Regions from separate parts of the Homo sapiens genome. Here region 2 is linked to region 1. A link means that fine-mapping ties the variant in region 1 to the expression of a gene that starts in the linked region. Tissue or cell type: whole blood. Region 1 holds a variant in brackets; the other region holds the start of a gene. All regions are shown on one strand. Distances are from middle to middle.

Evidence for each region. PIP is the estimated chance that this variant, and not a neighbour inherited with it, causes the effect.
Region 2: SELENOW starts here. The variant in region 1 is fine-mapped to the expression of SELENOW in whole blood (TOPMed, PIP above 0.99).

The regions. Positions count from the first base shown.
Region 1 is chr19:47,307,888-47,315,987 of GRCh38, forward strand. C5AR1 (complement C5a receptor 1) reads left to right here and starts at 1,974. Exons shown (of 2, transcript NM_001736.4): 1 at 1,974-2,011. The coding sequence starts at 2,009. RefSeq lists a silencer at 7,333-7,528 and an enhancer at 7,485-7,779. The variant T/C (reference allele first, on the strand shown) is at 3,280.
Region 2 is chr19:47,775,614-47,783,710 of GRCh38, forward strand. It overlaps SELENOW (selenoprotein W), which reads left to right and starts at 3,090. Exons shown (of 6, transcript NM_003009.4): 1 at 3,090-3,201; 2 at 5,112-5,136; 3 at 5,251-5,304; 4 at 5,495-5,569; 5 at 5,677-5,775. The coding sequence starts at 3,173. The coding sequence ends at 5,757. RefSeq lists silencers at 2,978-3,237, 3,248-3,387 and an enhancer at 5,455-6,040.

The DNA of each region.
Region 1 (8,100 bases):
GTCAGATCAGGGGCGGAATTACATTCTCATAAGAGCGTGAACCCAGGCCGGGCGCAGTGGCTCAAGCCTGTAATCCCAGCATTTTGGGAGGCTGAGGCGGGTGGATCACGAGGTCAGGAGTTCGAGATCAGCCTGGCCAAGATGGTGAAACCACGTCTCTACTAAAAATACAAAAATTAGCCGGGTGCAGTGGTAGGCACCTGTAGTCCCAGCTACTCGGGAGGCTGAGGCAGGAGAATCGCTTGAACCTGGGAGGCGGAGGTTGCAGTGTGCCGAGATCGTGCCACTGCACTCTAGCCTGGGTGAGAGAGTGAGACTCCATCTCAAAAAAAAAAAAAAAAAAAAAAAGAGCATGAACCCTGTTGTGAACAGCGCATGTGAGGGATCTGGGTTGCAAGCTCCTTATGAGAATCTAATGCCTGATGATCTGTCACTGTATCCCATCACCCCCAGATAGGACCATCTCGTTACAGGAAAACAAGCTCAGGGATTCCACTGATTCTACATTATGTTGAATTGTATAATTATTTCATTATATATTACAATGTAACAATAATAGATGGAGATGGTTGTGGCTTGTGTAGTTGGGGGACAGGGTAGCTCCATTTTCTATTGCCAACTTTATAACCCTAGAAGGATGATTTTTTTCTTTTCTTTTCTTTTTCTTTTCTTTTTTTTTTTTTTGAGATTGAGTCTTGGTGTTGTCAGCCTGGGCTGGAGTGCAATGGTGCAATCTCTGCTCACTGCAACCTCCGCCTCCTGGGTTCCAGCAATTCTCCTGCCTCAGCCTTCTGAGTAGCTGAGATTACAGGCACCCACCACCACGCCTGGCTAATTTTTGTATTTTTAGTAGAGATGGGGTTTCACCATATTGGCCAGGCTGGTGACGATGGTTTTTTTTTTTTGAGACAGAGTCTTGCTTTGTTGCCCAGGCTGGAGTGCAGTGGCGCAATCTTGGCTCACTGCAACCTCTGCCTCCCAGGTTTAAGCAATTCTCCTGCCTCAGCTTCCCAAGTAGCTGGGATTACAGGCACCTGCCACCACACCTGGGTAATTTTTGTATTTTTAGTAGAGACAGGGTTTCACCATGTTGGCCAGACTCGTCTTGAACTCCTGACCTCAAGTGATTCATTTGCCTCAGCCTCCCAAAGTGCTGGGATTATAGGTGTGAGCCATTGCACCTGGCCCTAGAAGGAAGATTTAACAGTAAAATATACTTAAATGCTGGGCTACCTCCGCAGACTAGCTCAGCCTCTTTGGGTCTCAAATCAGCCTGGCCGGGAGGCTGAGTGGAGGTTACAGTCTCTGCTTTCTTGAATCCCAAGGGAGGGGTTTAAGCCAACTGCATTCCTGAGCTTTTGCCCAGAAGGCTGGCGTCTTAGGAGGAAAGAGATAGATGGCTCCAGGCCGGGCGCAGTGGCTCACACTTGTAATTCTAGCACTTTGGGAGGTTGAGGTGGGTGATTGCCTGAGCTCAGGAGTTTGAGTCCAGCCTGGCCAACATGGCGAAACCCCGTCTTTACTAAAAATACAAAAAATTAGCCGGGGGTGGTGACACACACGTGTAATCCCAGCTACTCGGGAGGCTGAGGCAGGAGAAGTGCTTGAACCCAGGAGGCAGAGGTTACAGAGAGCCGAGATTGCACCACTCCACTGCAGCCTGGGCGACACAGCAAGACTCTATCAAAAAAAAAAAAAAAAAAATGAGAGAGAAGAGATGGCCCCAAATAGGGAAACCAAGGCCAGGAGAGGGGCCGAGCCTGCACAGGAGCTTCCTCGGTTTTCCGAGCGCCGGCCCCCCTTCTCTGCCTGGGAGGAGGTGGTTAGAGTCCCCTGGGTGTGTGCCCCGCAGAGGGAGCTCTGGCCTCAGTGCCCAGTGTGCAGACCAATGAGAGCCCCAGAGAGAAAGACGGTCATTTCCTCCCTGCATCTTCCCTTGGGGCTTTAAAAACCACAGCCCTTGGGCAGGAGGGACCTTCGATCCTCGGGGAGCCCAGGAGACCAGAACATGGTGAGTCTCGAAGGGGAATGGGAGCAGGAAACTTTGTCCTGGGTCCCTCCCATCTTTGCTCCAGTGGGTCCTTCTCTCTCCCCAACTCTCGCCGTCAACTCTGTCTGTCTCTCCCTTTCCTTCTCTCTCCCTGTCTTCCACCTCCCACCTTCCCTCTCTCCTGCATCCCAGGCTCTCACACTCCAGGGCTGGGATGTGGCCATGGGAATAAGATTGTCAAGATTGTGGGAGCAACAGCAACCTCGTGGGGCTGGGGCCCGAGAAGATTCCCCAGGGGAGGGGACCCTTGAGTTGGGTCTAGTAAGGTGACTAAGAATTCCACAAGCAGCCGAGCGCAGTGGGTCACACCTGTGATCCCAGCACATTGGGGATTGTGCCAAGGCGGGAGGATTGCTTGAGGCCAGGAGTTCAAGACCAGCCTGGCCAACATAGTGAGACCCTGTCTGTATTTTTTTTTTTATTTAAAGAATTCCACAAGTGAAGAAATCTAGAACAGGCCTTCCAGGCAGTGGGAATGGCAGAGAAAATGTTGGGAGGCTGGAAAGAACCAGTTTGGAGGAATGGTCAAGTTACTCAGATGCTCTTGCAGATAGATGTTCTTTTCTTTTTCGACTTGGGGTCTTGCACTGTTGCCCAGGCTGGAGTGCAGTGGCACCATCATAGCTCACTGCAGTCTTGAACTCTTGGGCTCAAGTGATCCTCCCTCTTTAGCCTCCTGAGTATCTGGGACCACAGGCATGCACCACTATGTCCGGCTAATTTTTAAAATTTTTATTCTTGTAGAGATGGGTTCTTGCTATGTTGTCAGGGCTGGTCTCAAATTCCTGGCCTCAAGCCATCCTCCCACCTTGGTCTCCCAAAGCTCTGGGATTACTGGCATGAGGCCATTATGCCTGGTCGTTTGAGATGTTCTGCATGACAGAGATGGGGAAACTGAGGCCCAGGCAGGAGCAGAGATGGATGGGGACCCTCCATGGTTGGTGGCAGAAGCAGGTTATGCCATGGATTCTGTGAGTGTCAGAAGGAATGCACCCCAGGCTAAATGAGGGTCCCTGTCATCCCTGCGTCTGGAGGCCTGGGCACTGAGCCAGCAGAGCTGCGATTCAGCACCTGCTGTAACACAGGCATTGCCTTGCTTCATCTGTGTCAAAGAGGAAACGGAAGATGGTTTGGATGGACCAGGGAGGGGTCTGATGTTGCTTCATTCCTGCATTCCACCCTTGAGATCCGACTTGGGCAAACGGGACTCTCTGATTCTTCTTCTTCTT[T/C]TTTTTTTTCTTTCCAAAACATTTTCCAAAGTACCAAATGATACTTGGTAAAAACTCATTCTCGGCCAGGCGCGGTGGCTCATGCGTGTAATCCCAGCACTTTGGGAGACTGAGGCGGGCGGATCACAAGGTCAGGAGATTGAGACCATCCTGGCCAACATGGTGAAACTCCGTCTCTACCAAAACTACAAAAATTAGCTGGGCATATAAGCGGGCGCCTGTAGTCCCAGCACTTGAGAGGCTGAGGCACGACAATCGCTTGAACCCATGAGGCAGAGGTTGCAGTGAGCCGAGATTGCTCTACTGCACTCCAGCCTGGCAACAGGGCCATCTCAAAAAACAAACATAGAAAAAAAAAAACTCATTCTCCCTGCCTACCCCAGAGCCTCTGACTCCTTTTCTTTCCTTTTATTTTGAGACAGAGTTTCACTCTTGTCGCCCAGGCTGGAGTGCAATGGCACGATCTTGGCTCACCACAACCTCTGCCTCGCGGCTTCAAGCAATTCTCCTGCCTCAGCCTCCCGACTAGGTGGGATTACAGGCATGCGCCACCACGCCTGGCTAATTTTTTGTCTTTTTAGTAGAGACGGAGTTTCACCATGTTGGCCAGGCTGGTCTTGAACTCCTGACCTCACGTGATCCACCCACATTGGTCTCCCAAAGTGCTGGGATTACAGGTATGAGCCACCCTACCTGGCCCTCTGACTCCTTTTCATTGCCTCCTACCCTACCTGGGGCAACCATGGGATGCCAGTTTGTGGTGGATCCTTCCAGAAACAGTTTACAGATGCCTGAGAGCACAGATGCTTAGGGAACAAAGTAAGGACTAGTGTGATGCGGGGAACCCCAAAACCGAGCTCAGCTTCTGTCTCTACTATGAAATAGTTGCGGAGATCTGTCCTCTCCGTGCTTCTGTCTCCTTATCTTTTTGTTTTTTGAGACAGTGTCTTGCTCTGTTGCCCAGGCTAGAGTGCAGTGGTGTGATCTCAGCTCACTGTAACCTCCACCTCCTGGGTTCAAGTGATTCTCCTGCCTCAGCCTCCCAGGTAGCTGGGACTACAGGTGCCTGCCACCATGCCTGGCTAATTTTTGTATTTTTAGTAGAGACGGGGTTTCACCGTGTTGGCCAGGCTGGTCTTGAACTCCTGGCCCCAAGCAATCTTCCCGCCTTGGCCTCCCAAAGTGCTGGGATTACAGGCGTGAGCCATCGCACCCAGCCTCCTTCTCCTTATCTTTAAGGTGAAGATAATACTAGAATCTACATCATAGGCTAGTTGAGAGAATTGACTGAGTGAATGCATGAAAAGTTCTTGTAGCAGTGCCTGGTATACAGTTGGCGCTCAATGTGGGTGACATTTCTATCCTTTCCCAGCCTTATAAATGGCAGTATGTTTTGTACAGTACTCTACATCTGGCTTTTTTAAATGAATAACATATAGTATTATTAACTAGCATTTATTGAGTGCTTACTGCATACCAGGCGTTGTATTAGGCATTCATTAATTTCCCCTTAACCTTGAGGAAGGTACTTCATTCCCGTGTAGTTCAAGGGAGTTGCCTCCTCCTCCTCCTCCTTTTTTTCTTTTTTCTAGACAGGGTCTACTGAGGTCTTCCACCTCAGCCTCCTGAGTAGGTGGGACTACAGGTGCATGCCACCACACCCAGCTAGATTTAAAATTTTTTGTAGAGGTGGGGTCTTGCTATGTTGCCCAGCCTGGTGCTTCTTTCTTTCTTTTATCAGCTGAGTAATATGCTAGTAGGAGGTTTCATCCCCTTCAATGGAAATTTAGTTTGCTTCTAATATTTGGTCTGTTTTGTTTTGTTTTGAGACAGAGTCTCGCTCTGTCACCCAGCCTGGAGGGCAGTGGTGCAGTCTTGGCTCACTGCACCTCTGCCTCCTGGATTCTGGTGATTCTCCTGCCTCGGCCTCCCAAGTAGCTGGTATCACAGGTGCGTGCCACCACACACGGCTAATTTTTGTATTTTATTTTAGTAGAGACGGGATTTCACCATGTTGGCCAGGCTGGTCTCGAACTCCTGACCTCGTGATCCACCCGCCTCAGCCTCCCAAAGTGCTGGGATTATAGGCGTGAGCCACCGCGCCTGGCGTCCAGCCACATTCTTTAACTCAGCATCTGCAGACCTTCCAGTCCTATCTTGGCCGCCTGCCAGCCATGCTGACCTTTCGTTTCTGCTGTGCACCACCTGCCCTTCCTCTCTCCTTTCTGCCTAGAATGCATGCCCCCCCACTCCCAATGCACTTTAGGCCTGCCTGGTAGCCACTCAAACAGAGGGCTCTGGGCTGGGCGCGGTGGCTCATGCCTGTAATCCCAGCACTTTGGGAGGCTGAGGTGGGTGGATCACGAGGTCAGGAGATCAAGACTATCCTGGCTAACACGGTGAAACCCTGTCTCTACTAAAAATAAAATTAGCCAGGCATGGTGGCGGGCACCTGTAGTCCCAGCTACTCGGGAGGCTGAGGCTAGCAAATGGTGTGAATCCAGGAGGCGGAGCTTGCAGTGAGCTGAGATCGCGCCACTGCACTCCAGCCTGGGGACAGAGCGAGATTCCGTCTCATAAAAAAAAAAAAGAGAGAGAGGGCTCTGGGGCTCAGCTCTCAGGAGTTTCTCTCCTGTCTCTGTTCTTGCTAACCGAGAAGACTTGGAGAGGTCTGTTCATTTCTCTGTAGCCTCATTTTTCTCTTCTGGAAAATGAGTGTTGCTGTTGCAACAAGTAAGTCTCCTAGGGTTGCTTTGTGGGTTCAATGAGATAATACACGAGAAAGGCTCAGGACAGCCTGGCAATGATTATGGCTGTTCTTGTAGGTACTGCGCCTTCTCCTTCACCCTGTTCTCATCCGATCGTTCACATCTTGCGGCCAGCACCCTTGTCTAAGCCACCGTCATGCCTCACGTCACCTGGACAGTTCCAATCTCCGTTTCCTCCCAGCTTCTGCTCTCTGCCCCTTTCTCCATGCAACAGACAAGGGTTGTTCCTCTAATGAGCATGTGAATTTAGGAAGAATAATAGTACCCTGCCCTTTGTGCTATTGTCACATAGATATGCACTGTGATTAGGAAATTACTAAGCCAACACCTGGGAAGCACATGGAATAGTGCCGGGCAATTAGAACCCCCAGAGTGGCCCTGGACCTGCACTGCCCAATATGTGGGCCACGTGCCACAATGCAGCTACCTACGTTTATTTTTCACTATTTTATTTTATTTTACTTTATTTATTTTATTTTTGAGATGGAGTTTTGCTCTTGTTGCCCAGGCTGGAGTATAGTGAAGCGATCTCGGCTCACTGTAGCCTCCACCTCCCGGGTTCCAGTGATTCTTCTGCCTCAGCCTCCCAGATAGCTGGGATTACAGGCGCACGCCACCACTCCTGGCTAATTTTTGTATTTTTAGTAGAGACAGGGTTTCACCATGTTGGTCAGGCTGGTCTTGAACTGCTGACCTCAGGTGATCCACCCGCCTGGGCCTCCCAAATTGCTGGAATTACAGGCGTGAACCACCGTGTCCAGCCTATTTTATTTTTTAGAGATGGAGTCTCGCTATGTTGCCCAGGCTGGAGTGCAGTGGCACGATCTCGGCTCACTACAACCTCCACCTCCTGGGTTCAAGTGTTTTTCCTGCCTCAGTCTACTGAGTAGCTGGAATTACAGGTGCCTGCCATCACACCCAGCTAATTTTTGTATTTTTAGTAGAGACGGGGTTTCACTATGTTGGCCAGTCTGGGCTTGAACTCCTGACTTCAAGTGATCCACCTTCCTTGGCCTCCCAAAGTGCTGGGATTACAGGCGTGAGCCACCACGCCTGGCCTCACCCTAGATCTTGGAGGTCTTTCCACATCATTATATAAACATTCTTTTTGTCTGTTTTTTTCCTTTTTGTAGGGATAGGGTCTTGCTAGGTTACCCAGGCTGATCTTGAACTCCTGGGCTCAAGCAATCCCCCTGCTTCAGCCTCCCAAAGTGCTAGGATTACAGGCATGAGCCACTGCACCTGGCCAACTTTTCCATTCTTTTTGATAGCTGTGTAGTATTCTGTTGCCTGGATGTACCATCATTAATTTAGCCAGTCCCCTCTTGCTGGACATGTCAGTTATTTCCAGTCTTTGGAGAGGTGCTGCAGTGGCAAACTTTGCAAGCCGTTTGCGTCTGAAGATCCCGGAAACCACAGGACGTTGGAATCAGCGTATTTTTTCTGCCTTTCTGAAGTCAACCAGAGGAAAGGACTGAGTGAGCTCATGGCAGGAACGGAGCTTTGTCAGCTGATGAGGGAGTGACAAGGCGATGTCAGAGCAGAGGGTGGGGAGGCTCCCCTTACGAGGGTCTGAGTCATTCTGCAGTCAAGGATTGCTGGGAGCTTGCGAAACCAGCAGAGGCAAAATTTACCTTCATGCGTCACAGCCAAAGGGAACATTCAAAATATTTAACAATGTGCTAAAGTGCAGAGGTCCCCTGGGCAGGGTCTAGGGCCTCCTGCTGCACCTAGCATTAACTCTTTAGTGACATGAACATGGCGACCTGGAGTGGGGGTGTCCCAGAGTAGGAAACAGGAACTTAGGGTGCTGGGAGCGGGCAATAGAAGAAGTGGGTGGCTGAGGGCAGGGGCTGTTTACCAGTGAAAATATTTTTAAAAATGTTAACCTTCTATTTGGAAATATTTTCAAACTTACGGAAAAATGACAAGAATGGAACAGGCTCATATACATATACATTTTACCTAGACTCTCCAAATTTACTGTATCTGTCTCTCCATTATCCATCCATCCATCCATCCATCTGTCCATCGATTCATCCATCCATCCATC
Region 2 (8,097 bases), 470 kb after region 1:
AGCAGATCACTTGAGGTCTGGAGTTGGAGACCAGTGTGGCCAACATGATGAAAGCCTGTCTCTACTAAAAATACAAAAATTAGCTGGGCATGGTGGCGCATGCCTGTAGCTCCAGCTTGGGAGGCTGAGGCAGGAGAATTGCTTGAACCTGGGAGGCAGAGGTTGCAGTGAGCCGAGATTGTGCCACTGCACTCCAGCCTGGGCAACAGAGTGAGACTCCGTCTCAAAAAACAAACAAACAAACAAACAAAAAAATATATATGGTATGTATATATTTATTTTGTATATATATTTTTGTGTATATACATATCTATATATATAATTTGTATTTATAGAGATGGGGTCTCACTATGTTGCCCAGGCAGAGGTTTGAGTTTTTGTTGAGGGCTCTGGGAGTCACAGAAGATAGCTCTATTTGTGGGTCATTCACTTTTTGCCCAGCCCTGTGTTGCTTTACATGCACTTGCTCATTAAATCCTCCCAAGATCAGGGGGATCAGACTGAGGTGGGTGGAGTCGACTTGAACTTTGCTTAGGGTTCTAAGAGGTAAAGACTAGGGGATCTGGGGACAGGGAAATCCCAGATAGAGTTAACCTTTTTTTTTTTTTTTTTTTTTTTTTGATACAGTCTCGCTCTGTCGCCCAGGCTGGAGCGCAGTGGTGCAATCTCAGCTCACTGCCTTCTGTCTCCTGGGTTCAAGTGATTCTCCTGCCTCAGCCTCCCAAGTAGCTGGGATTACAGGCGTGCACCACCACATTGGGATAATTTTTGTATTTTTAGTAGAGACAGGGTTTCACCATGATGGCCAGGCTGGTCTTGAACTCCTGAGCTCAGGTGATCTGCCTGCCTCGGCCTCCCAAAGTGCTGGGATTACAGGTGTGAGCCACCTCATCAGGCTGAGTTTATTGAGTTATCCCCGTGTGCCAGTCAGAGCTCTAGTTCTTCCTACCTGTATAAACTCGCTTACTGCTCACATCAACCATCTAATGGAAGTGCTGTTTTCATGTTGTTTCCTGCCCTTTGTCTCTACCTGCCAGATCACTCCCATGAAGGAAGGGACTTTGTTTATTTATTCATTGCTGTATCCCTGGAAACTGGGACTGCAGGTGGTTATGAAGTACCTATTTGTTAAATGAGTGAACATTTCCTGTAGGCAATTACACCCAACTTCCAAATGGAGAAACAGGCTCAGAGATAAGCCCCTGCACCCTCACTCCTCAACTCAACTGCCTGTTTCTAGCACTTTCCATGACGATCCCCTCTGCACGGAGAGGGTTCATGGGGAGTGACTATTGTTCTGTAATGAATGACCAGGCTGTGCCAGGTCCGGCAGTAGGCCTTTTCCTTTTCCTTTTTTTTTTTTTTTTGAGATGGAGTTGAGTTTTGCTCTTGTCGCCCAAACAGGAGTGCAATGGCGTGATCTTGGCTCACTGCAACCTGTACCTCCTGGGTTCAAGTGATTCTCCTGCCTCAGCCTCCCGAAGAGCTGGGACTACAGGCATGCGCCACCACGCCTGGCTAATTTTCATATTTTTAGTAGCGACGGGGTTTTGCCATGTTGTCCAGGCTGGTCTCGAACTCCTGACTTCAGGTGATCCACCCACCCTGGCCTCCCAAAGTGCTGGGATTTCAGGTGTGACCCACTGTGCCTGGCCAGGCCTTTTCCTTTCTTTCTTTTTTCGAGACAGTGTCTTACTCTGTTGTCCAGGCTGGGGTGGCAGTGGCACAATCACGGCTCACTGCAGCCCCAAACTCCTGGGCTAAAGTGATCCTTCCACCTCAGCCTCCCCAGTAACTGGGAGTACAGGTACATGCCACCACACGGACTAATTTTAAAAGTTTTTGTAGAGATGGGGTCTTGCTATGTTGCCCCAGCTGGTCTCAGACTCTTGGGCTCAAGCAGTCCTCCTGCCTCGGCCTCCCAAAGCATTGGGATTACAGGTATGTGCCACCGTGCCCAGCCGCAGCAGGCCTTTTGTTTTTTTAGAGAGGGTCTTGCTTGGTGGCCTAAGCTGGAGTGCAGTGGTGCAATCACGGCTCACAGCAGCTTCCAAACTCCTGCGCTCAAGCGAGCCTCCTGCCTAAGCCTCTCAAGTAGCCTGGGACTGTAGGCACACACCACCACGCCCGGCTGATTTATTATCTATTTATTTATTTGAGGTGGAGCCTCGCTCTGTCACCCAGGCTGGAGTGCATTGGCCTGATCTTGGCTCACTGCAACCTCCGCCTCCCAGGTTCAAGTAATTCTCCTGCCTCAGCCTTCCGAGTAGCTGGGACTACAGGCACGCGCCACCACGCCCATCTAATTTTTGTATTTTTAATAGAGACGGGGTTCCTCCATGTTGGCCAGGCTGGTCTTGAACTCCTGACCTCAAGTGATCCGCCCGCCTCGGCCTTCCAAAGTGTTGGGATTACAGGCGTGAGCCAACGCACCCAGCCACTAATGTATTATTATTATTATTCTGTAGAGACGCAGTCTGGCTATGTTGCCCAGGCTGGTCTTGAATTCCTGCCTCTGCCTCCCAAAGCGCTGGGGTTACAGGCGTGAGCCACCGCGCCCTGCGGCTGCAGGTCTTTATAAGGCAACTGTGGGCCCTGGACCGCTCCCTGAAAACCTCCCCCTCAACTCCCTGTCTCCTCCCTCACCTGGTCTACCCCGAATCCTTCCCCTCTCGCCCCCTCGCCCTCTCCAGGGGAGGTGAGGGACTCAAGAATCGCGCCCTGCTTCTGTCCCCACCGCGCCGTCCCCAAGCCCACGCAGTGAAAAGACCACCCTTGAGGCTGATTCCGGGTCCAGCTGGGAGCGGCCAGCCGTAAATCACCGCCCCCGTGGGCCGTACCATTCTGGCCGGGGGGACCTGGGAGGGGACGCGCGGAGGGCTTCCCCCGGGGACTGCCTGTATCGAGACTCTCTCCAGCCCAACAGGAGGATGGGAAGGAGACTTGTGTGGGGGCCTCGGGCTGGCGGGTCGCGGGTTCCTTATCCTCCGCCTTGGCGCCTCTCCGCCCACCGCCCACCGCCCCTCCCTGGCATTGGTTGGCGCCAGGGGAAGCCGAGGCTCCATCCTTTCTGCGCAGGTTCCCGCCGCACTCGCGCAGACCTAGCGCGTCCAGGTGGGAGGTTAGTGTGGCCCGGGCGTCCGCTCCTCAGCGGATGTGGCAGCCCCGAGCCATGGCTCTCGCCGTCCGAGTCGTTTATTGGTAAGCCCAGCGGCCAGCGGCCCCCGTCCCCGACCCCCGCCGGGACCCGATTCTCGGAGCCGGGGTCAGGGAGCCCCGGGGAGAGGACCCATGGGAGCCCTTGTATGGGAAAAGGGAGCCCCTGTATGTGGGTGGGGTGGGCGTACGGAGGGGCGAAAAACAGAGGGCGGTCGTCCCTAGGCCCCGTCTTCGACTTGTGACACGCTGGGCATCTCGGGTTATAAAAGGTGGGGCTGAGACGAGTGTGTGTCAATTTCGAACCCCCGACTCCGGGGCTCCGCTGGGGAAGGGGCTGGGGGTCAGCTTTGTAAAGGGACCTAAGGCTCCTCCACCCTAAGGCTTCCCCTCCCCCAATATCCCGAACAGTCGCGGGGTGGGGACAGTGAGAGCCCAGAAGGTTCGAGAATGTCTCAGCCTGTGTTTCAGAAGCACTTGAATTGTTGGCCTCTGCCCAGTGGGTTCCCTTGGCCACGAACCCCACTCCTTTTCTGGCCTCAGTTTTCCGTCTGTGGCAAGAGGGAGGCTCTGTGTCAATACCGAACACGCTTAATTTCTGCAAGTCTCAGGAAGGGTATAATAGGATAGGATATAAATTACGTTCTCTCCACTCCCCAGCACCTAATACTGTGTGGCATGCTGTAGGTATTTAATAAATACGTGTTCAATGAATTTATCCTCCCAGGAATCCCTTAAGAGAGGGGAATTTTAGGCCAGGTGCCGTTGATCACGCCTGTAATCCAAACACTGGGAGGCTGAGGCGGGTGGATCGCTTGAGCCCAAGAGTTCGAGACCAGCCTGGGCAACCCAGGGAGACCCCCCCCTCGTCTCTACAGAAACTTAAAAAGTTAGCCGGGCATGGTGGCGCACTCCTGTAGTCGCAGCTGCTTGGGAGGCTGAGGCAGGAGGATCACTGGAGCCCGGAAGGCGGAAGTTGCAGTGAGCTGAAATCGTGCCACTGCACTCCATCCTGGACAGCAGAGCGAGACTCTGTCTCAAAAAAAAAAAGTAAATTAAAGAGAGGAATTTTAGTTCTATGTTACAGGTGAGAAAACTGAGGCTGGGACTGGGGTGGGGGCAGGTCAGTAGCTTCAAGTCTGGACTGCAGGTGACAGGGGTAACTGGAACCTGGGTTTGTCGGCAGCTTTCCAACGTCTCTGCCTGCTCGACAAAGCAGAGGCAAGAGTGACATTTTGAGACGCCTACCAGGCCTGTACACCAGATTCCAGTCCCGAAATAGCCTGCTGTGGGGGTTGGGTGAGCCTGTATTTCACCCTGGGGACTGGGAAGGTGTTCAGAATCTAGGAGCTGCGGGGCCGGGTGCGGTGGCTCCTGCCTGTAATCTCAGCACTTTGGGAGGCTGGGGCGGGCCGATCCCCTGAGGTTAGGAGTTCGAGACCAGCCTGGCCAACATGGTGAAAATACAAAAATTAGCTGGGCGTGGTGTAAGAATCCAGGAGCCGCAGGGTTTTCCTTGGAGTGCTGCGAGGGCTGTGGGTGAGGGTGGTGGGCACAGGGAGTGGGTGGGGACCTTACGTGTGCTGTTCTTCTCCTAATCCAGTTCTCCTGGTTTTCCCCCGTCCCCGTCTCTCGTATTTGTGGTCTCCTTGTCTCCTCTCTCCCCTTTTTCCCCTCCCCCTTCTCTGTCTCTTGCTTGGTGTTGGTTTTCTGTGTGTCTCTGTGTGTCCCCGCGCCACCCCCTGTGCTGTGTCCCAAAACTCTGCCTGGCTGGTGCCTGTCTTCTCTCTTGAGGGCATCTGTCACCTCTTCTGCTTGGTCATCTGTGTTCCTCTTTATTTCTTCCTGGCCCCATCTTGCTCTCTCCCCACACCGCCTGTGTCTACCCTCCTCTCCCCGATCCCCCACTTCTCCCTCTCTCCCCTGGGCCCCAATGTCTTGGACTCTCCTACCAGTGGCGCTTGAGGCTACAAGTCCAAGGTAAGCAGAGTGGATGCCCGGGGGGCATTCCTGGGAGCTGGGGAGGGGTAGAGTGCATATTGGGAGGGGGCTGACTGGTATGACCCCTGCTGTGACCTCTCACCGCGTTTTCAGTATCTTCAGCTCAAGAAGAAGTTAGAAGATGAGTTCCCCGGCCGCCTGGACATCGTGAGTCTTGGGATGGGGAGAAAGACTTGAGCACAGCCACTGTGTCGGTCCGTTAGGCCTGGATGGCACTGCAGGGGGGTTAGGTCAGCCCTACGCCCTTCACCCATGTTCTCATCCCCCTGGGAAGGGGAGGGTCTCCCCAAGAGGACATCTTAGCCCCTCCAACATCTCCCCTACCCCCTTTCCTCAGTGCGGCGAGGGAACTCCCCAGGCCACCGGGTTCTTTGAAGTGATGGTAGCCGGGAAGTTGATTCACTCTAAGAAGGTATGTCTGTCTGTCCGTCCTGCCTGGTTTTGGGGCTAGCATGGGGTTGGGGCTGAGGTTGGTGTCTCGGTCCCAGCTCACCCCTTCCCTCTTCCTCCCCTCCCTAGAAAGGCGATGGCTACGTGGACACAGAAAGCAAGTTTCTGAAGTTGGTGGCCGCCATCAAAGCCGCCTTGGCTCAGGGCTAATGCGCCCTGAAGGCAGAGGTGAGGGGGCCCACTAGACAGGGACACCACCCTTTGGATCTTCTCCCTGCCCCATGCTCTGACTCCTTGGCCCAGGGTGGAGAGCCTGGGAGATGGGGGGGACATCACGTGTGTCCCCAGAGCGAGCGGGATAAAGTTAGACCCGGTTGGTGGAGGACAACAACTGAGATGGGGTCAGAGGTGTGCAGGGTGACAGCTGAGATGGTGATGGGTCAGAGATATGCAGGATGACAGCTGAGATGGGGTCAAAGGTATGCAGGATGACAGCTGAGATGGTGATGGGTCAGAGGTGTGCAGGATGACAGCTGAGATGGTGATGGGTCAAAGGTATGCAGGATGACGGCTGAGATGGTGATGGGTCAGAGGTGTGCAGGATGACGGCTGAGATGCTGATGAGTCAGAGGTGTGCAGGATGATGGCTGAGATGGTGATGGGTCAGAGGTGTGCAGGATGACGGCTGAGATGGTGATGGGTCAGAGATGTGCAGGATGACAGCTGAGATGGGGTCAGAGGTGTGCAGGATGACAGCTGAGATAGGGTCAGAGGTATGCAGGATGACAGCTGAGATGGGGTATGCAAGATGACAGCTGAGTTGGTGGTGGGGTCAGAGGGCTGCCCTAAAACAGCTCTCCTGGTTTGGGAATGAAAAGTGCTAGCAACCCAACGGTTCAGAATCCGGAACTCTAGGTCTTTGTCCCATTGCCAAGAAACAGTTCCCAACCCAGCAGGTCATGTGACAGCGTCCGGCCAAGTTCCCAGCATGTTTTGAGACAGAATTTCCTTGCTCCACAATTTCGAGTAGGTCACTAATTATCACCGGGCTCTGAACCTGAGAATTAGTTCTAGGAATATTCCAGACCTGATCCAGCTCCAGAAACTTACCCACTTTGGAACTGAACATGAGTCCAAGAATGCTCTAGAAACAAATGCTAACTCTAGAATGGATTGTCTGCTCCAAAAAAACCCTAGAGCTGACTCCCAGTTCTCCCCATAGAGCCGAGAATGAAATACACCACCAGCTCCCAACACACTGTAAACCTGAGCCCCCCTTCCCAACCCAGCAATTGAAAAATGTGAACCAGCTCCTAAGCACTAGAATTGACCACTAGTTCCTGGAGTTGGCTACTGGTTCCTTATCACTGTTTTTCTTTCTTTCTTTCTTTTTTTTTTGAGATGGAGTCTTGCTCTGTCTCCCGGGCTGGAGTGCAGTGGCGCGATCTCGGCTCACTGCAGCCTCTGCCTCCCGAGTTCAAGCAATTCTCCTGTGTCAGCCTCCCAAGTAGCTGGGATTACAGGCACATGCCACTATGCCCGGCTAATTTTTGTATTTTTAGTAGGTCTGATCCTGTTGGCCAGGCTGGTCTTCAGGTGATCCACCTGCCTTGGCCTTCCAAAGTGTTGGGATTACAGGCGTGAGCCACCGTGCTTGGCCTCCTTAAGCACTCTGAACCAAGTATTGTTTCCAGCCTAATACATTGTGGAACAAGTGGCAATTTCTATATGAACCTCAGGAACAAAGAACTACTTTCCAGCACCTTCTGAGTCTGATTTTCCAGTTTGTAAGCCAGTATGGTCCAGATAAGCGTGAAACCCAACCCATTCTAGAACAGTTACTAGCCCTTTTTCTGGTCTCTGGCACTGCAGGGCCTGGAGCATAGTTTATTTTTTGAGGTGGAGTCTCGCTCTGTCGCCCAGGCTGGAGTACAGTAGTGTGATCTCGGCTCACTGCAACATCTGCCTCCTGGGTTCAAGGGATTCTTGTGTCTCAGCCTCGTGAGTAGCTGGAATTACAGATGTCTGCCACCATGCTGGGCAAATTTTTTTTTTTTTTTCTAAGACGGAGTCTCTGTCGCCCAGGCTGGAGTGCAGTGGCGTGATCTCGGCTCACTGCAAGCTCCGCCTCCCGGGTTCACGCCATTCTCCTGCCTCAGCCTCCCAAGTAGCTGGGACTACAAGCGCCTGCCACCACGCCTGGCTAATTTTTTGTATTTTTTAGTAGAGACGGGGTTTCACCGTGTTAGCCAGGCTGGTTTTGAACTCTTGACCTCAGGTGATCCGCCTGCTTCGGCCTCCCGAAGTGCTGGGATTATAGGCGTGAGCCACTGCGCCTGGCCATACTTTTTACTCCCCTCTAACCTTCAGCACCAGTTCCCATTCCATGTTGATCTAGAACAGAGTATCCCATCCCAACACACTGTGGACCCAAGTACCAGCTCCCAGTGTGCCTTGTGCCAGAAAACTAGTTTTCAAATGCGTTAAACTCAAGTTCCATTTCCTAAAATTCTTTACCAGAGCAGAATGAGGTCATGTTCAATGTGAATT